Homo sapiens: one gene and its partners. The protein of the gene in region 1 interacts with the protein of each later gene in a pairwise test. Each region holds a gene or a part of one and is shown in the gene's direction. Other genes may lie near its edges. The genes, in order: TMEM255B, DGAT2L6 and SFT2D1.

What was found.
Region 2: the proteins of TMEM255B (region 1) and DGAT2L6 interact in binary tests that used the Homo sapiens proteins (3 or more experiments, as listed by UniProt).
Region 3: the proteins of TMEM255B (region 1) and SFT2D1 interact in binary tests that used the Homo sapiens proteins (3 or more experiments, as listed by UniProt).

What each region holds. Positions count from the first base shown.
Region 1 is NC_000013.11:113,754,680-113,762,306, forward strand, and holds the start of TMEM255B (transmembrane protein 255B), read left to right. Parts: upstream 1-4,546; 5' UTR 4,547-4,590; coding exon 4,591-4,636; intron 4,637-7,627.
Region 2 is NC_000023.11:70,201,460-70,206,298, forward strand, and holds the end of DGAT2L6 (diacylglycerol O-acyltransferase 2-like protein 6), read left to right. Parts: intron 1-430; coding exon 431-605; intron 606-2,845; coding exon 2,846-3,057; intron 3,058-3,492; coding exon 3,493-3,647; 3' UTR 3,648-4,245; downstream 4,246-4,839. UniProt on the Homo sapiens protein: Diglyceride acyltransferase that uses fatty acyl-CoA as substrate. Particularly active with oleate as a substrate. Has no wax synthase activity to produce wax esters.
Region 3 is NC_000006.12:166,325,527-166,332,643, reverse strand, and holds part of SFT2D1 (vesicle transport protein SFT2A), read left to right. Parts: intron 1-1,236; exon of another isoform or gene 1,237-1,259; intron 1,260-2,396; coding exon 2,397-2,483; intron 2,484-3,054; coding exon 3,055-3,137; intron 3,138-4,286; coding exon 4,287-4,368; intron 4,369-6,476; coding exon 6,477-6,512; intron 6,513-7,117. UniProt on the Homo sapiens protein: May be involved in fusion of retrograde transport vesicles derived from an endocytic compartment with the Golgi complex.

The sequences.
Region 1 (7,627 bases):
AAAGATTGGCAATCCTATGACTTCTGTCTCCTGGACTCCTCCCAAGCCTGAATCCCTTCCCGGACGCTCACAGGTCGCAGCGTATCTTGGGTAACCCCATCCACTGCCCCCATCAAGCCAGCCCCCGACCTGTCTCCTGTTTCCCGGAGCTTGCTCAGAGATAACAGATTCATCCGATCCTCCAGGAAGGGCCCGAGCGGCCTGGCTCCCTGCCCTCCAGCTCTTAGCTCTGTGTGTCTCTCCTTGCGGGAGCCCTCCCTGCGACACCTCCCGCTGCCTCTCAGCGCTGAGCTTAACACGGTGGCATCACCTGGGAGGGCTCAGTCTTTCTGTCTCTTCTCCATCAGCCTCTGAGCTCCATCAGGGCCCCAGGTCAGTGATCACTCCTGTGCTTCCACAGCCCAGCGCCAAGCCCAGCCCTGCTCTGGGCCTGGACAATGCTCAGGACAGGACAGTGTGGGAGTCAGCCCCTGGCCCTGACCCTGGCTCTCGGAGCCAGCGCTGTTGCTTCCCTACCTCACTGGATGTTGCAGGAATGGGTTAGAGATCTGAGGACCACGGAAAGTTAGGGGTGAGGGGAGGATGAACCAGTCATGGGGAACCCCGGTATCTCTGAGTGAGTAGAGAAGGAAGGTGGTGCTGGCGGGAAGGAAGGACAGGTGCTGGCTGTGGGTTCCAGCCACTTCCGAGGTGCAGGCCTGGGGAGAGGAGGCAGGTGGGGCCTGCTCAGGGAGCCCCTGAAGAAGTTCTGAGTTGGCTGTGCTCCAGTTGGCCCCTGCACATTCCCCATGCCAGGCAGGCGCTTTTTCTCCTCTTTAAAAAGGCATTCCCTGAGCCTGGTGGAATGAGACAAACATGGAAATCCCTGGGCTGCTCTCAGTGGTGGAAGAGGTTGGGCACCCTGGCGGCTTAGGGTGGGACTCGGCCTGCAGAGCCAAGCAGGCGCCCTTTTTCCTCCTTTTCTTTTCCTTTCGTCCATTTAATTTTTAAAATATAACAGACTGTGGCCGGGCACAGTAGCTCTCGTCTGTAATCCCAGCACTTTGGGAGGCCCAGATGGGAGGATCACTTGAGCCCAGGGGTTTGACATCAGCCTGGGCAACATGAGGAAACCCCATCTCTACAAAAAGTATAAACCTTAGCTGGGTGTTGCAGCACACGCCTGTGGTCCTAGCTACTTGGGAGGCTGAGGTGAGAGGATCGCTTGAGCCTGGGAGGTGGAGACTGCAGTAAGCTATGATCATGCCACTGCACTCCAGCCTGGGCCACAGAGCCACAGCATGTCTCAAAAAACAAAAAAGTGACAGACTGCAAACAAAGGCACACCTGGGTAGAGGATGCACAGGAGCTCCTTGCACTATCCCTGCAAACCACCTTTAGGTTTGAAAATAGATAAAAATAAAAAGTTACAAAAAAGTAATCATCTATTTTAAACATCCAGAAAAGTATAGAGAATAATATAACATCCCTGTCCACACCATCTAGCCTTAATGGTATCTCAACATTCCCCCTTTTTTTACAAGTCTTTTAACTTTTTTAAAGAAAGAAGATTTCACAAATAGAGTTTAAGCCCCTAGACATAGTTCCAAAGCTGTTCAGCTTGTCCACCCAGACAGAGAATCACAGTTCTGGATGAAGCATGCACTCTCCCCCAGCATGTTCTTCTACTTTACTTACACAGTATCCATGCATCTACACACATGACTCACGGTGTCCATGTATCTGCACACACATGACTCATGGTGTCCATGTATCTGCACACACAAGGCGGTGTCCATGTATCTGCACACGAGACTCACGTCCGTGTATCTGCACACATGAGTCACGGTGTCCATGTATCTGCACACACGAGACGGTGTCCATGTATCTGCACACGAGACTCACGTCCGTGTATCTGCACACATGACTCAACGTGTCCGTGTATCTGCACACAGGACTCACGGTGTCCGTGTATCTGCACACAGGACTCACGGTGTCCGTGTATCTGCAAACATGACTCATGGTGTCCGTGTAATCACCTCCTACTGTTTCATCATATCCTATAACCAGTTTCTCAGCTTCCATTCTGCTATCCTACAACTACTCTCCAGTAATCCTATGTGTAGGACCCTCCAATAACCCCCACATCACTCGGAGCAAAGGCCAGAGGCCCTGCGGCTCACCCCTGATGTCCTCCACCTGGTCCCCACAAGCCTCTGGCACCCTGGTCTCCTTGCTGCTCCCCCTGGGCCTGGATGGCTCCACCCCAGGGCCTTTGCATGGAGGTTCCTTTTCCTCAGACCCTCTGCCCCAGATGTCTGGGTGAGCAACCACCTCCACGCCCTCAAGCTTGGTCTTCAACATCACCTGTCAACAAGCTCTCTTTTCACTACTTAAAAACCACAGCTCCCTCCCTCTCCCACACTATACTTTCTATTTTGTTTCTTTACCTCTCTTTCCTTTTTCTGTGGCCTGCATTACCTGGCTGTGTATGTATGTATGTGTGTATGTGTGTGTATGTATAAGTGTGTATGTGTGTGTATGTGCATGTGTGTGCATGTATGTGTGCATGTGTATGTGTGTGCATGTGTGTATGCATGCATGTGTGTATGTATATGTGCATATGTGCATGTATGCACGTATAAGTGTGTATGTATGCATGTGTGTATGTATGTGTATGTATGTGTGCGTGTATGTATGCACACATGTATGCATGTGTGTATGTGCATGTATGTATGCGTGCATGTATGTATGCACACATGCATGCATGTGTGTATGTATGCATGTGTATATATGCATGTGTGTGTATGTGTGTATGTGCATGCATGTGTGTATGTCTGCATGTGTGTATGTGTATATGTGTGTGTGTATTCCATAGCATGTTGCCCTCTGACATGCTGTGCATTTTTCTTGTTTATTGTATTATTATTCATGGCCTCACTTCCCCACCAGGATCCTTGTTTACGTTGCTCATTGATACATCCCAAGTACCTGGAACAGTGTCTGGTATATCGCGGATGTTTAGTAAGTCTTGAGAGGCTCACTGAGTGAACAGTGTTAATTTTCATGGTTTAAAACTTTATATAAATGGTACCATACTCGCTGCCGTACTTGCTGTCGTACTCGCTGCCGTACTGTGCACTTGCATTTTTGCTCCGCGTTCTGTTTTTGGCATTTATCCACATTGATCCATGTAGCTCTCATTTATTTTAACTGCCATGTGGTATTTCGCTGTATATGCCCATTTCTTTATCGCTTCTCCCCGTGTTGGATATTCAGGGTGTGTCCGGTGCTTTGGACACACAGTGTTGTGAGGAATATTCTGTACGCATCTTCTAGCACATGCATACTTCTTGTGGTAGTTTCTCTCTCACAGTGGATGGCCTATTAGAATGACTAGGGAATTCTTAGCTATTAGTTTGTTCCCAGAAGTTCTGGTTCAATTGATCTGGTCTGGGTTCAGTGCTGCAGAAATGTTTTTTCTTTTAAAGACATTCCTGGATGACTTTAACGACAGCCGGGGTTGAGAACCACGGCTCCTGGCTCGAAGGAGCAGATCTATGTTTGTGTTCTTGGGCATATCTAGAAAGAGATATGCTTTCTTTCTGGCTTGTCATCTACTTGCTTCAATTTTCCTAAAGGTTGCTTTCAAAGTGGTGGCACCATGCGTGATCCCAGCGGTGAATGCAGATTCCCACGTTTTCATTAACATTCTTTAAGTTGTTTGACCCTTGGGGTTTTCTGATAGGATGAGGGTGAAACGCATCCTCTTGTTCCCACAGCGTTCCCCTAATTCCGGGGGCTGAGTTTATTGATCGTTCAAGCATCTTCTTTTGTGACGGGACCGCTGATGTCCTTGACTCAAAGATGTTAAAAATACGTTTAGAAGGATCTTTATTTTTTCCTGCTGCTGTACGAGGCACCCTTTCTGGCCCCGTGTTTCCTTGCCCTTCTTTCCAGCAGCAGATTTTACTCAGAACAACTTCAGTGCTGTGGACACAAAGACGCAGGCCTTGGAGAGGCGGGTCAGCCCTGCCTCGGGGCTGCTGAGTGAGGTGCCAGATGCGTTTGTTCCTCATTTACTCATTTGCGTTTGTTCCTCATTTACTCGTTCCTCGCAGACTGGGTTGTAACACCATGTACCACCCTCTGAACCCAGAGATCAAGGGCTGGCTGGCCCTGTAGCCCCAAGGAGCTCCGTCACCGGCCAATGGGGAGGCGAACCCGTGGTGACCCACTCAGCGGCACCGCCAAGGGCTGAGCGTGGCGCCAGCGGCGGAAGGCCCGGGGTCACCGTCCCAGGCCGGGGCTCCGACCCCGAGTCCGCAGGGTCCTCTCCAGGCACCTTCCATCTGGGGTCTGGCTTCCACTCCCGGCCGCGGCGTCCTGATTTCCAGAAACCAGGCGGCCGCTGGAGGGGAGAAGGGGGAGCGGGCGCAGCGGGGGAGGGAGGAGAAGAAACGCCGGAGAAGGGAGAGTAGAGCGAGGAAGGACGCGAGGCGGGCGGAGCGCGGGGAGGTGCAGGGGGCGGGGAAGGGGCGGCGCCGCGAGGGCGGCTCCTGGCGGCGGGACTGTGGCTGTGGCCCCGGGAGAGCCGGGTGGGGCCTCGGGATGCAGCCGCCGGTGCCCGGGCCCCTGGGCCTGCTGGACCCCGCAGGTGAGCGCGGGGCTGGGGGCTCGTCTCGGCTCCTGCGGGGGAGCGTGGGGACCCCGGGGCTGGGACTACAGGTCCCCGGCCGGCCCGGGCGGAACCTGCGCGGAGACGCGGCACGGGGTCTGGTCCCTCCGCCTCCTTCGAGCTCTGTCTTTGGAACACTTTGCATTTCGCACTGGGGTCGGGCGTTCGTCCTACCGGTTCGTTCATTCATTCTCTCTCCCTGTCTCTCTCTCTGTCTCTGTCTCTGTCTCTCTCGCTCTTTCTGTCTCTGCCTCCTCAGTCTTTGCCTTTCTCTGACTCTGTGTCCGTTCCTCTTGGCCTCTCTCTCCCTGTTACGTTTTATTATGAGGAACAGGCGCCCCAAAGTGCGCTCCTTCCCCATCTCTTCCGTTTATTCCAACCTACACCATTTTCCGGGAAAACTTCGTTTGGAAGAGCGAGGTAGCCTTTTCCTGTTTGAACGTGCAGAGGCGCTCACAGAACTGGACAGTGTTGCTTGGTTTCGGCTCGCCCCTCTCTCGTGTTTCTCCCCGGTGTGTTCACGGAATCTCCAATTCTTCCACTTCCCAGACCAAGCCCGCTGCAGCCTCGGAGCCAGGCAAAGGCTGGGAAAACAGGAAACCTGTTGCGTGTTCACCAGTTCGCAAGCCGGGCTCGGGGGCTCTGCCGGGAAGTGGCCAGGACTGGAAGGATGCCGGGTGTCTTCCTGAGGGGGAGAGGGCTGGGCAGATTTCAGAACAAAAGAGAAACAGAGTTCCCTAGAAAGTGAAGCCCTGACGGCTGGAGGGAGGGATGGAGTGGTGTCTAGGGGGCTCTGCCGCTCCCTCAGAAATAATCCAACACAAACTTCTGGGGATTAACCTCACAACCCTTTTACTGCGGCATCGTTCGGAACCGGACGAATTACTGTTACTTAAAATAATCAAATAATTTGGCTTCTTTCTAAAAGAAACCACTATATGCCTTCCAATCTAAAGCAAAATGCTCTATGGTCAAATGTATTAATGTGGATTAGTCTATTGGTGTTTAATAATGATAACTATTATTATTATTTATTAACTAGTTTTATCATTATTAGAATGCCTTAATGTTTAAAAATAGCATCTGACTTAGATTTTCTTCTGACAAAGAACTTTAAACCTTAAAACAATACTTGGAGCTGGTCTTTTTAGTATATGAAACATTGGTGTATCTGGGTAGGATTATGGGTCTTTTTGTTTGGAGCTGGTCTTTTACTAAAATGTATAAAGCATTGGTGTGTCTGGGGTTGGATTATGGTCTTTCTGCTTTGGTGTGTCGGGGTGGATTATGGTCTTTCTGCTTTGGGGTATCTGGGGGTGGGTTATGGTCTTTCTGCTTTGGGGTATCTGGGGGTGGATTATGGTCTTTCTGCTTTGGGGTATCTGGGGGTGGATTATGGTCTTTCTGCTTTGGTGTGTCTGGGGGTGGATTATGGTCTTTCTGCTTTGGGGTATCGGGGGTGGGTTATGGTCTTTCTGCTTTGGGGTATCTGGGGGTGGATTATGGTCTTTCTGCTTTGGTGTGCCTGGGGGTGGATTATGGTCTTTCTGCTTTGGTGTGTCTGGGGGTGGGTTATGGTCTTTCTGCTTTGGTGTGTCTGGAGGTAGATTGTGGGTTTTTCTGCTTTGGGGTATCTGGGGGTGGACCATAGTCTTTCTGCTTTGGGGTACCTGGGGGTAGGATTATGGGTTTTTCTGCTTTGCCCTTCTTTGTTCACTACCCTGGGCATGTGTAAAATCAGGACGAAAGAGGAATTGACGGCTGAGTGATTACAGTTTTACCTGGGATTGTTACTTGGACACCATGACTGGTGTCCCCACATGATTAAATGGAACTCACTCTTCTTTTTGGGCGTTCCAGGTCCGGCTGGCAGGAAGGCCGGATCTTAGAACCCTTCCAAGCAGTGCCACCTCCCATGCTTTGTGACATTCCCCTTCCTGGCTCTGTGGAGTAGAGGAAATGGGTCTGAGGGGCAGGAAGAACCTGACCTCCAGCCTCGCGTGTCTTCCAGGTAGGACCTGGCGTGGGCACAGGCTCATGTGGTTCAGCTCCTCCAGCTAAGGCTGGGGAAGGAGCCAGGAAGGGGAGAGCAGGTGGGATGGGAGAAGTGGGGGCTGGTGGGGAGTGACAAGGTGATATTCTGAGATATCCTAGATGGGCTGCACCTGGGGAAGACTAGAATTAGAAAAATCAGCGCACTTGATAGCAGAGAGGTAGCTGTTGGCCCCTTCAGCTTCACATCTCAGAACTCCTCCTTGCAACTCCAGTGGGAGAAATGCTGGTTAAGAATAGCCGCTACGCCGTCTTAAAGTTCACACCACCCTGATGATTAGCATATGCATTCCATTTACAAAAACCTATATGAGAGCCCACGTATCGTGTCTCACTGGACGCTTATCACAATCTCAAGAGGTGGGTGAGCAGGTGGTTCTCATGATTTCCATCCTACAGGTCAGGAGACTGAAGTGCCTTCATTCATTCCGTACCAGGAGATGTGTCTATGTCCTCATCTGAGCCCCGGGAACCGGCGACAAACAAGAGACAGAGCTCTTGGCTCTCATAGGGTTCTCTTCTCCCAGGCTCAGGGAGATTAAATGGCCGCCCAAGACCACACAATGGGTCTGGACAGACCCAGAATGGTTTGGGTCCAGTCCCTGTAAGCTGCCTCTGCAATAGAAACCTATTGGTAGATATTTTAATTAATAGTTGGGGCACTTAGGAGCACTTTAATTTTCACAGTGCGTGTAATAACAGTATTTCCGGGACAGGAAAAAAAAAAAAATCAAGGAAATTATTCAGGTGATTTTAATTATCTTTCTCCTAAGTGAAAGCCCCTTTCTCTTGAAAATCTGACCTTATAATTATCTCTTATGCTAATTATAAAGATATCCCACCTTCTTTTCTTGAGTTTATTTTTTTTCTCATTTTTATGCTGTGTCATGTATTTATAGAATGTGTTTAAGGTTGGGA
Region 2 (4,839 bases), on another chromosome or scaffold:
ACTCTTAGGGAGGAAGCAGGTTGGTGGTGGCTAGTCTCGATTACCCCTGGAGGAGAGAACTCTGGAGGATCTCCAGTGTTGTCAGGCTGGGCAGAGTGGAAGATGGCTGTGCTTCATGGGTAGAGAGGGATGAGGTGGGCTTAGATACTATTGATCTGAAATGCAGTAGGCTATGGATGGTAGGAGGCAGAGGAGCTCAGTATAGACCCAACTGCAGAAGCACAGACCCCCAAGGCAAACAGCTGACCCTAAGGACCAATCTTAGGCTAGGGCAGTCATAACCCGGGACACGAAGGTCAGAGACAGAAAGGTGGAAACAGCAATAGTCAGAAAACAGAAGAACTGTCTCCAAAAGGAAGAGCCTGGGAAAACCCCTTACCCCATCCTCAGGAATGAAGTTTTTCTACCACTTGACTCTTTGGTTTCACAGGTGTGTGCCCTGTGAGTAGCTCAGCCTTGAAGTACTTGCTGACCCAGAAAGGCTCAGGCAATGCCGTGGTTATTGTGGTGGGTGGAGCTGCTGAAGCTCTCTTGTGCCGACCAGGAGCCTCCACTCTCTTCCTCAAGCAGCGTAAAGGTTTTGTGAAGATGGCACTGCAAACAGGGTGGGTTCCAAGGTTCTAGTGCTCTGTTGTCAGGGTGCCATAGGCCCTCTGTAGCCCTCTCCAGAATGGTGCCCTCCCTGGGCACCTGTTAGAGGGCCCCCATCTTCACTCTAATTCCTTCTGTCTACCCCCTCACATTGTGCCTTAGGGATGTTTGGGCCTCCAGATACATTTCAGTGGGCACTTTTCTTACTTGAAGTTGGAGAAAGAACAGCAGAAGAAAACCTTTTACTTTCTGCCCATTGGCCTGGTAGGCTGGAGGTCTGGGAAAGCGGGGCTTCACTCTATATCAACCTGTTAACTGAGAGGCCCTAAGAATCTACCAACTGCAAGGGAGGCACTAGCTTTGATACCGTGAGGATCAAAAAGATAAGACATGACCCCAAAGAGCATACAATCTGGTTTGAGAAATAGACCTTATTCATTCAGCAGTTACGGAACACCCACTGTATATCAGGCATAGTACTAGGCATTTAGGATATAAAAGTAAATAAGACCTGGTCCTTGCAAACTCACAGTCCAATATGGAAGAAGACAGACCCATGCACATATAATTACCAAATACCTGCAGAATCCAACCACTTACTACCTAGGCTACCACCCCTTGGTTTACTACCACCATCTCTCCCCTTGGTTGATTACAACACTTCTAACTGCTCTTCCTGTATCTATTCCCACCTCCCCCACCCCAAGAGTCTATTCCCAGCTTCAGCCAGGATGATCCTGTTAAACATGAGTCAGATCATGTCACTTCTCAAAATAATCCAATGGCTCCCATGTCACTCAGAGTAAAAGCCAAAGTCTTTATAGGGGCTTGCAAGACGCGGAATAATCTGGTCTATAGCTGCCTCTCTGTCCTCATCACTCACTTCTCTTCCCACTCTCTCACTCCATCATAGCTATACCGGCCTCTTTGCGGTCCCTCAAGCAGGCCACCCGCTCCTGCTTTAGAGTCTTTGCTTTAGCGGTTCCCTTGGAACACTATTCCTCCAAATGACTGCTTGGCTCATTCCTTTATCTCCTTCAAGTCTTTGCTCAAATGTCTCTTCTCAATACAGTTATCTGACCATCTTGCTCTATTTTTTGCCGGTTACACTTATCTTCTTATAGCTCATCCATTTTATTTATTTGTTTACCAACTATTTTCAATGTTTATTGTCTGTCTTCCTCCCAGAAAAAGTAAACTCCACGAACACAGAATTTTTAAAAATCCATTGTATTCACTGATGCATCTCCAGGGCCTAAAACAGTGCTGGCACATAGAAAGAGCTTAATATTTGTTAAATAAATGGAACACTACAATGGAAATGTGTACAAAGTGCCACGTGAGCACCAATTTATGGAAAGATCTTGACCCAGAATAGAGGTTTCATAGGTGGGTAACATCTGAACTGTGAATTGAAATATTGGTAGGAGTTGCCAGGCAGACCAAAAGGGAGAAAGAACTCAGGCATTCAGTGAGGACCTATGGCATGTCAAGTGCTATGCCAGGGCCTAGGGATTCAAAGATGAATATGACCCAGTTCTTGCCTTTGATTGGCTTGCTGTCTACTGGGGGAGTCAGGCAAGTAAGGAGATGACTATAATACACGGTTGGGGCAGCGTTAGTGTAGAAGAGAGGTAAGCACTAGATGAGGGGTACCTAATCCGCGTTGGGGGAAATGAAGTGGTCAAACAAAGTTGCTTTAAGGGGATGAGATTGGGACTGAGTGCAAAATTGAATGAGCCACATAAAGACAGAGGGAAGAAGGAAGATACTTCCGACAGAGGGAGCAGAATGTACAAAGACACAGAGATGAGAGAGTATGAGGCACACTTAATATGGCTAAGCAGATTGCAAGGAAAGAGTGGGGAAAGGGAAAGCTAGCCAAGGAGGGAAGGCTAGAGCAAAAAGGCCGTAAGGAAGCAGCATGGTGCAAACTGAGGAGCTCTGGAAGAGTTTGAGAGGAGTGGCATGTCCAGATATGCAGTTTACGAAGAACACTCTGCATGCTGGATGCAATGAAGACAGAGCTTTTGAGATTAGTTTCTCCCTATAACAGGACAAGGCAGAGCAGCAGCTCCCTTCAGAGTTCAGTTGGGAGAGTGAGGCATGGCAGGAATGGGACATGAAGATGGAGATGTTTGGGTGCTTGGGTTCTTGTCCTATAATGGGGAGGTTGGAGAGGTTTCCCACCTTGGAGAGGATTTTTCCGGGGATCTTCCTCAGAGAGCTCACACTCCTGCCCCTCTCTTTGCAGGGCATACCTTGTCCCTTCATATTCCTTTGGTGAGAACGAAGTTTTCAATCAGGAGACCTTCCCTGAGGGCACGTGGTTAAGGTTGTTCCAAAAAACCTTCCAGGACACATTCAAAAAAATCCTGGGACTAAATTTCTGTACCTTCCATGGCCGGGGCTTCACTCGCGGATCCTGGGGCTTCCTGCCTTTCAATCGGCCCATTACCACTGTTGGTGAGCTTTCCCTTATCTCCGGATGACCTGTTTCTTCATTCACTTCCCACCCACTTTAAATCATCCATCAAGTCCAGGGGGACCCAACTCACATCTGGGATGGGCAATGGGTGTGGTTAAGAGCAGGGTGGGTAGGACAACTAAACAGATAAGAGTTGTGGCCATTCATGGATGTGACATCAGCATCTGCTACAAGAGCATCACCATTCGCACACATTCTGTCACCACTCTCCTGAGCTTGCTTGCATTCTCTTGAGCATGGGTTTGATTAGATGATCAGAGAACAGGGGCCAGGATGAGACTGGAGCAAAGGGAAAGAAAGAAAGAAGGGGAGGAAAGCCAGATACTGAGTTTCAGTACATGGCTCCCAGTGAGGGATGAGTAGTTTGAGTTGAGGGGGGAACTCTGATGTTTGTCTCTTTTCTTTTTTCATAGTTGGGGAACCCCTTCCAATTCCCAGGATTAAGAGGCCAAACCAGAAGACAGTAGACAAGTATCACGCACTCTACATCAGTGCCCTGCGCAAGCTCTTTGACCAACACAAAGTTGAATATGGCCTCCCTGAGACCCAAGAGCTGACAATTACATAACAGGAGCCACATTCCCCATTGATCAACCCCCAAAGCCATGAGGGATCCAAGTAGAGCCACAGAAAAAGAAGAATTCCAGGAGAGGGAAAGATCGTAAGGATGAGAGAGGAGACCATCCAAGCCAGAAATTATTTAATAAATCAGAGTTCTAGCAATAGAGTCCTCTCCCAAGTGGCTGAGGCAGGCTTAGGGGAAAGAACCAGAGGGGCAGGGGAGGACTGGGGAGGGCTGGCTAGCCAGAGGAGTTGGCTGTATCACCCCTGGTTATTTTAGGGCAACAACCCAGTTGGGGAGTCTTATGAATCATTCCAGCCAACTCTCTGATCACAAAGAATACTGTGCCCCTTTCTCCTAAACCTTAGTTCACCATCACTACGTAGGTTTAGACTTAGAAGCTTTATTTGGAACAGGGATAGTTTGTTTCCTCTTGGTCCTTTCCTTACAACTTGGGAACTGCCACAAGGTAAACCAGGGACCTGAACTGTAGCTGCCTGGTCCAAGCAGACAGGATTCCGTCAGTTGTGATAGAGTTCTAGATTGGCAATGCAGTTACATTGTTTCTTCTTTGAAAATAAAGTTCTAGACATATAAAACAGGATACCACTATTTCCTGATTATTCTGTGGTTCGCTATTGGGCTTCCCTCAAACCTAAGATTTTCCCTTCTGGCCAGAAAGCTGCTCTATGGAGAGCCCTTTTCCTCTTCTTTATTTACCCTTCATACTTCCCCGGACAGAAAAGGTGGGGGAATGGAACCATAGCTGCTGCAAAGTGTAAGAGACAGGAGCAGAAACATGGGAACTGGCACAGGTACCCGCTGTGTAGCCCACCTCTCCTGATCCCACATAACCATCCTATGTCAGAAGGGAGGGAGCCACAAGACCATGCACCAACTGTAAGTTTGCTTGATGTCAAGTCCCTTCTATGTTCCAGGGACCATGACATTGCTTTCATAACCATTGTCTCTCAATACTAAACATAAGCCCAGTGAGATTGAGATTGTCATCACCTCCATTTCACAGTAGCTAAAGCTCCTAGAGGGTTAGTAGCTTGCCCAAAGCCACACAACTTTGGATAGAACTAGCATTCAAACCAGAGTTCTCTCCAATGCACCACTCTATGTCCCCATTCCTCATTTTCTGGAGACCCACTTTTCAGCTTCATTTTCCTAAATGAGGCCCCATGGCACTCCA
Region 3 (7,117 bases), on another chromosome or scaffold:
AGATTAACAAAGTTGCTGGTTTTGGTGGGATTGCTCCTGATTGGTGGTAAAAGAAAGCAGCACATAAATGCTTATGATAAGCAGGCTGGGTGCAGTGGCTCGTGGCTCATGCCTGTAATCCAGCACTTTGGGAGACCGAGGCGGGTGATCACTTGAGGTCAGGAGTTTGAGACCAGCCTGGCCAACATAGTGAAACCCCGTTTCTACTAAAAATACAAAAAATTAGTCAGGCCTGGTGGCGTGGACCTGTAGTCCCAGCTAATTGGGAGACTGAGGTAGGAGAATCACTTGAACCTGGGAGGCGGAGGTTGCATTGAGCTGAGATGGCGCCTGAGCAACAGAGTGAGACTCTGTCTCAAAAAAATGCTTGTGATAAGCAGACGTCAGGGTTCCTTCTGTCTCCTAGTTGGAAGATGCACTGCCAGGTTTTCTTTCATGTTGAAGCATATCACAGTTTTCCCAATTAGGAGTCAGGAAATCTGTATAGTTGTTTCGTATCCTAGACAATTTGCAAGACTTGAGACAAATCATTTGCTTGTGGATTGAATATTCCATGTTTACAAGTGGAAATAATTTGTCCTGCTGTTTCGTTTTAAAGATCAATACACGGAAGATGGCAATAGGAGGAAAAAATACCTACTATTATACAAATAGCCGTGCTGTTTCCTTGCTGAGAGAAAAACTGGCTATTGAAAAGCAGCGATTGAACTTGTGAACAATGGGGTGATTTGAACTTGGAAAAGAAGGAAAAATGGATGCTTTTTCCTCTCACTAAATCCTCACAGCATTGTGGACTCACACGAACCTTTAGAAATCATTATTCTTTCCATTTTTAATTGACAAATAAAAGTTATATACATTTATTGTGTACAGCGTGATGTTTTGACCTATGTATACTTTGTGGGATGGTTAAATGAAGCTGATGGGCGTGTCTCCATTTTTTTTAACAGATCATTTACTATGTAATTCAGTCTTTGCAGTTTATTCTGGCCTGCGTAGTTAAAATATACTTAGTGTATATTCTTCCTGATCAGTAAGAATGAAATGTAGATGTTTTTATAGGCAATTTCACTCTTTGTTTAAAACCAAGTGTTTAGTTTTGCCATAAACAGATGACATTGCTGGAAACAAGAATGTGAATTAAAACTTAAAAAACATTTAAAATGTGTTAAAGAGTGATATATGTTTCATTACAGAATACTTAGTTATTTTTATCTGCTTTTCATGCTACATAAGGATTCACAGATTAATCTCTTGAGGTAAGGAATGTAACCAAATGTATTTTGAACTGTTGCATATAGAACTTTCTCTTATTTTTCATTATTCTTGAAAATATAAGCATGTAGTCTTATTTTTAAGTGGATGTGGTAGTATAAATTAGAAATTTAAGTTTTGGAATATAAATCCTTGCTGTATATTTCTAGTTTCTTGCACAGCTGCTGTTGATAGATACTTTTTTAGCCTTATTTGGAAAATATATTTTAATAGTATAATTAGTAATCTGAGTGTGTTTATTTCACCACTACTGTGTGCTGGGTTATCATACTGTACAAAGTAGACTTAGTAATTTCTACTTTTTTCCCCACATAATTTGGCTAGAATTTGCATGGTATATAGGAATGCTGTTGCTCTAGAATAAATGATCATTTCACAGTATGTTTTTACAGTGGTGGAGGAGGGGCCCAAAACTTTCATGGGTTGGACTGAAAGAGCTTAGAACGGGTACCGTCTGGTGCGTGCTGTGATCGTCTCTGCTGGGGCTGCTCAGGCTGCCTCCTGTAGGTGGCCAGCGTCCTCTACCCTCCATGGGGTGCAGTCACCCCACCCCACCCCTGGCCTGCAGCCAATGACCGGCCGAAGGGAGGTGGCGTGTGGAAGGCCAGCCTCTGCCTCCAGCAGGACTTGCACTGAGTGCGGATGCACTCGGATGCACTCAGACTCTGGCATCTAGGAGCCTGAGGAATTCGTCCTGCAGAGGCAGAGAGAACAGATAATGAACCTGTGTACTCTTTCCCAGCCTCTGCAGTTTCAGTGTTTTGCCTGGCCTGTTGCATCTGCCCCCTGTGTTTTTTTAATCTTTGTATATTTTATAATATATCTTATATGTCATTTTATCCATATCAGTGTATATCGGCTGTCCCTAACAGATAAGGACTTTTGTGAAACATATTATCAGACTTTGCAAAATTAATGGTTATTCCTCAGCATCATCTGCTACCCAGACCATGGTCATATTACCCTTAACAACCGTGGAATCTTAGTATTCTTGAATGACACTGTGATATGCAAAATAAATGATTCAGACTATGTGTTAAAACTTTGCTTTAATTTAGTATAAAGAATCAGATTGGTAGTGAATTAAGACTATATTCTAAATTTTCCCATTTTTTATTAAGGTCCTGGATGCCTCATCCCTTAGTTTCAACACCAGATTGAAATGGTTTGCCATCTGCTTCGTATGTGGCGTTTTCTTTTCTATTCTTGTGAGTTAAGGCTTTATATTGTTTAATAATTTTTATTTTGTATTAGACTAATAATTCCATTTAGTACCAAAAACTAATGTCCTTTACTAAATCCCTGTTAGACCATTTTGGTGGAAGGTATTTATTAAACTAAAATAAAGGGGTAGAGATCAATGAAAATACGTAGAAATTAGTATTTTGGGGAGTTTTGTGGATAGTTGAAATAATTTAAGAAAAATGTATCAATGTGTTAAAAGATCTGGAGAGTCAGTAATTTAGATGTTTATTACCTTTTCATACTTGGTATTTAGCATGAAAATTTAACTTAAATAGACTGAGATTTACTGGTAAGCACAAAGTTTTGTTATGGCTCATTTATATATGCTAGTGCAAATAGGAAGAAGATTCAAGTTAGTGTATAACATTGAAAATTAACTATTTTTTCTGTGTAATCAGACTAGACTGTCTACAAGCAGATTTGTATTTAAACATATTACATAATATTGGTATTGTATTACTGCAGTAGCACGTTTATATTTTAACCATTAAAATCATAAAATTATTTTAAAATAACTATAATATCTTAACTTAGGGAACTGGATTGCTGTGGCTTCCGGGCGGCATAAAGCTTTTTGCAGTGTTTTATACCCTCGGCAATCTTGCTGCGTTAGCCAGGTACGTTTGGCTTCTCAAAATATCTTGTTTGCTCTTGCTACCAAATTTACCTTTCTAATAAGCACTTTCCCAGTAGGATGTTTATGTAGTTCTGTACATACTGTGAATTCAGCCACAGGATTTACATTCATTAAATAAATATGTATTGACTGCTGCTGTATGCCGTCTCCCATAACAGACGGTATTAGTGCTAGGAATAGCCAGCCTTTGTGGGGCACTTAATGTGTGTCTGGGACTGTTCTAAGTGTTTTGTATGTATTATGACGAGCTTGTGAGGTAGGCAGTATTATCATCCCCGTTTATAACTGGAGATAATAGCACAGAGCAGGGGAGTCAGTGCTGCCCATGGCGATGAACCTAAATCATGGCTGAGGTGGGAATCCTGCAGGCAGTGGGAATCCGGAGGTGGGATCCCACCATGGCTGAGGTGGGAATCCGGAGCCCAGGCTTGGAGCTGCTGCACTCTAGGCTTTGTTCTTGTGGAGCTTACATTTTAATGAAGAAGATGTTCACATGATAAGCCAGAAAAAGATGGGATGGCATTGGTGCTGTGCAGAGAATTAAAACAGGGTGTGGCAGTAGTGACAGAGGGCTACTTTATATTGGGAGTATGAGAATCCCTCTTTGAGAATCTTTGTCGCATCTTTGGGTTGTTGTTTGTCTTAGCCCTTTTTATGCTGCAGTAACAGAATACTGTAGACTGGGCGACTTAGGAAGAATAGAAATTTTTCTCACAGTTGGAGGCCTGAAGTCCAAGGTTAAGGCACATCCATCCTGCTGATAGATGCATCCCCCAAGGGGAAGATCCCTGTGTCCTCCCAGGGCAGAAGAGGAAAGAGCAACCCCCAGGCAGCCTCTCCTCCAAGGGCCTTTGATCCCTTTCAAAGGGAGGAGTTCTCACAGCCTAGTCCGGTCTTCATACTAACACACTGAAGACACTTACATTTTGGAGAAGACACCTTCACACCATAGCATGTCTATTGGTATAGTTGTAAAGTTTCTTTATAAAGTTAAGGAAAAAAAAAATTTTAGTGAGAGATTTTAATTAAATAAAGCAACAGGGCTTCTTTTTTAAAAAAGTAGTTTATTTTTGCATAACCAGATAAATTAGTAGACCTGTACCTCAGTCACTTTATTTGTTTCAAATAGTACATGCTTTTTAATGGGACCTGTGAAGCAACTGAAGAAAATGTTTGAAGCAACAAGATTGCTTGCAACAATTGTTATGCTTGTAAGTAAATAATACATTTTTAAAACTTTTATTGAAGTATTCTTTGCACTGTTATTTTACGAATAATTGCCTGTTATGTATGTATACTTCTTTTTTTATTTTTATTTTTTTTTATTATTATACTTTAAGTTTCAGGGTTGTATGTATACTTCTTGTGTTGAATATAATAATTATATCCGGCCGGGCACGGTGGCTCACGTCTGTAATCCCAGCACTTTGGGGGGCCAAGGTGGGCGGATCACCTGATGGCAGGAGTTCAAGACCAGCCTGACCAATATAATGAAACCCCGTCTCTACTAAAAATACAAAAATTAGCCCGGTGAGGTGGCATGCACCTGTAATCCCAGCTACTTGGGAGGCTGAGACAGAATCACTTGAACCTGGGAGGTGGAGGTTGCAGTGAGCCAAGATCACACCATTGCACTCCAGACTGGCCAACAAGAGTGAAGCTCCATCTAAAAACCAAAAAAAAAATATATCCTATGTGGTTATAGAGTTCAGATGGTACAGTATTGTCTAAGACTACTGGCTGGGTAAAGCCTGCTTCTGCTGCGTATATGGCATGGTGTAGCTGCGTATTTAAATGGAGCCTAGAGCTGAGTGTGCTTTCATTTTTAAGCCCTGCTGATGGTTTCATGAGGGATTGTTAGTTTGTACCCTTTAGAGGGTGGGCATAGACACCCTCTATGCTGAGGGTGAGATTTAGCATCATTTGTCATCTGACTTTTGTCCCTTCTCTGTGTGCCAACTTGACAAATTCTAACAATATGGCTCCCGTAACAGTATCTTTAAAGGTGCCTTCCATTACATTGTGGGTTCTGTCCACAACTCTCAGGTCATCACTCTTATTATCTTGAGCCTGGGTGGCGGGTAGATGAGAGCTTACACTTTGGCTAGTAAGGTTGTTTCCATTCTCATACGTGCTGGGTGTTCAGCTGATCATCGTTTTGTGTATTGTGGGCAGGAGGGGGACCCAAATCTCTTCTGCATCCTGCCTCTGCCTCCTAACTCACCTGGTCTGTGTCTCTTGTGGATTTCTTTTGCCTTCAAGCATTTATGATATTTAAAGAATTTAAATGTTACCATTATAACTATTAACATTAGCTTTCCAAACACAGCTAACCTATGTTAATTTATAAGGAAATGTTTGTTAACTCTAATCTGCCTGGCAGTCTTCTCCCATCTCCTCACTAGAGTAAAAACTCATTTTTAGCTTTATTTATTATGTCTTTATTCAACTTCATAGTTTCTTACCACTTTTATAATCTCCAATTATTTTGAATTTCCTATAATAGCATATGTATCAACATATATATAAACATTTAACTTCAGATTACTAACAAAGTATATTTCACTGTTAGAATATAAGTAGTTTATATTCCACTAAGATTTTAGTTAGTTTTATTTAAGAAATCCTGGCACTTACCCCTCAAACTTTTTAGTAACATACTGTACCTTACAAAAACACACATGTTGAGAGAACGTGGGAACGTTTGAACATATAAGACGTCTCCCAAGGTGGAGCACTTTGCGTGGTTTGATTTGCTGCCCACGTAAGATCACGCCTAGTAATGGTGGTGAAGAGGCTGTGCCACATAGAGCCTTCCACATGCCAGCTTCTAGCTCAAGCCCATCACGGATGCACTCTACCTTATTCATTACAACAGCCCTTTAAAGCAGGTAGGTAGGAACTCTCCTCATTTTAAAGAGAAGACAACAGGTTTAGACGAGTCCACTGACTTCACCAAGGACCCTCAGATAGCAGGCGTCAGAGCTGGGATCTCTTTAGGTCTTTCCAACACCACACTGCCCACCTCTTGCATTCACTCCTGTGCCTGCTTGCTTTCATGGGGATGTGGAATGATCATCTTTCAGTTTACTTAACAGATTAAATTATTAGATGCTTCCAATTTGCCAAGGAATATTGCAGTCATAGACTTTAAAGTAAAATAATACTTACAGAAAATACAAGTAAAACTATTCAGCTGTATTCTTATTTTTGTTCTATAGTATATTCCCTATGTAAATGAATGCAGAATAGTTTATGCATTTTTATTAGGCTTTTGAAAGGATCTCAAACTTATAATCTACTCTTTCTTCCCCTGTAGTTGTGTTTCATATTTACCCTGTGTGCTGCTCTTTGGGTAAGTTATGTCAGCCCTACTGGCTTTCAGTTAACTGTGTGCCCCCCACCCCAGCTGACGTGTCATCACACCATTATCTTAAAATAGCTCATCTGTTTTTTTAAAACTCTCTAAAGATTAGGTGTTCCTAAAATTTGACATGTTACCATCCAGCTAGTTGCTAAAAATGCCATAGATTCTACTGTCTACAGCATAGAGGTAGTCAGTGAACACACATGTGCACACATGCTCACCCACCCAGCTGGTGGCTAAATGTGCCATAGATTCTACTGTCTGCAGCATAGAGGTAGTCAGTAAACACACATGTGCACACATGCTCACCTACCCAGCTGGTGGCTAAATGTGCCATAGATTCTGCTGTCTACAGCGTAGAGGTCATTAATAAACACACATGTGTGCCCGAGCTCACCTGCTTGTGGGCCTGGTTGGCAAATCTGACAGTGCCCGGTGTGGTGAAGGGCCCTGGCTCAGGGGCTGTGCTCTCCACCATGCTGCTGCAGGGGTGCGCTGTGAGTCTGCAGTGGTGAGGCAAGTGTGCTGCCGAGTAGCAAGGTGTAAAACCAATAGAGAGGGCCAGAAAACACAGATAGTAACAACAAAGAGAG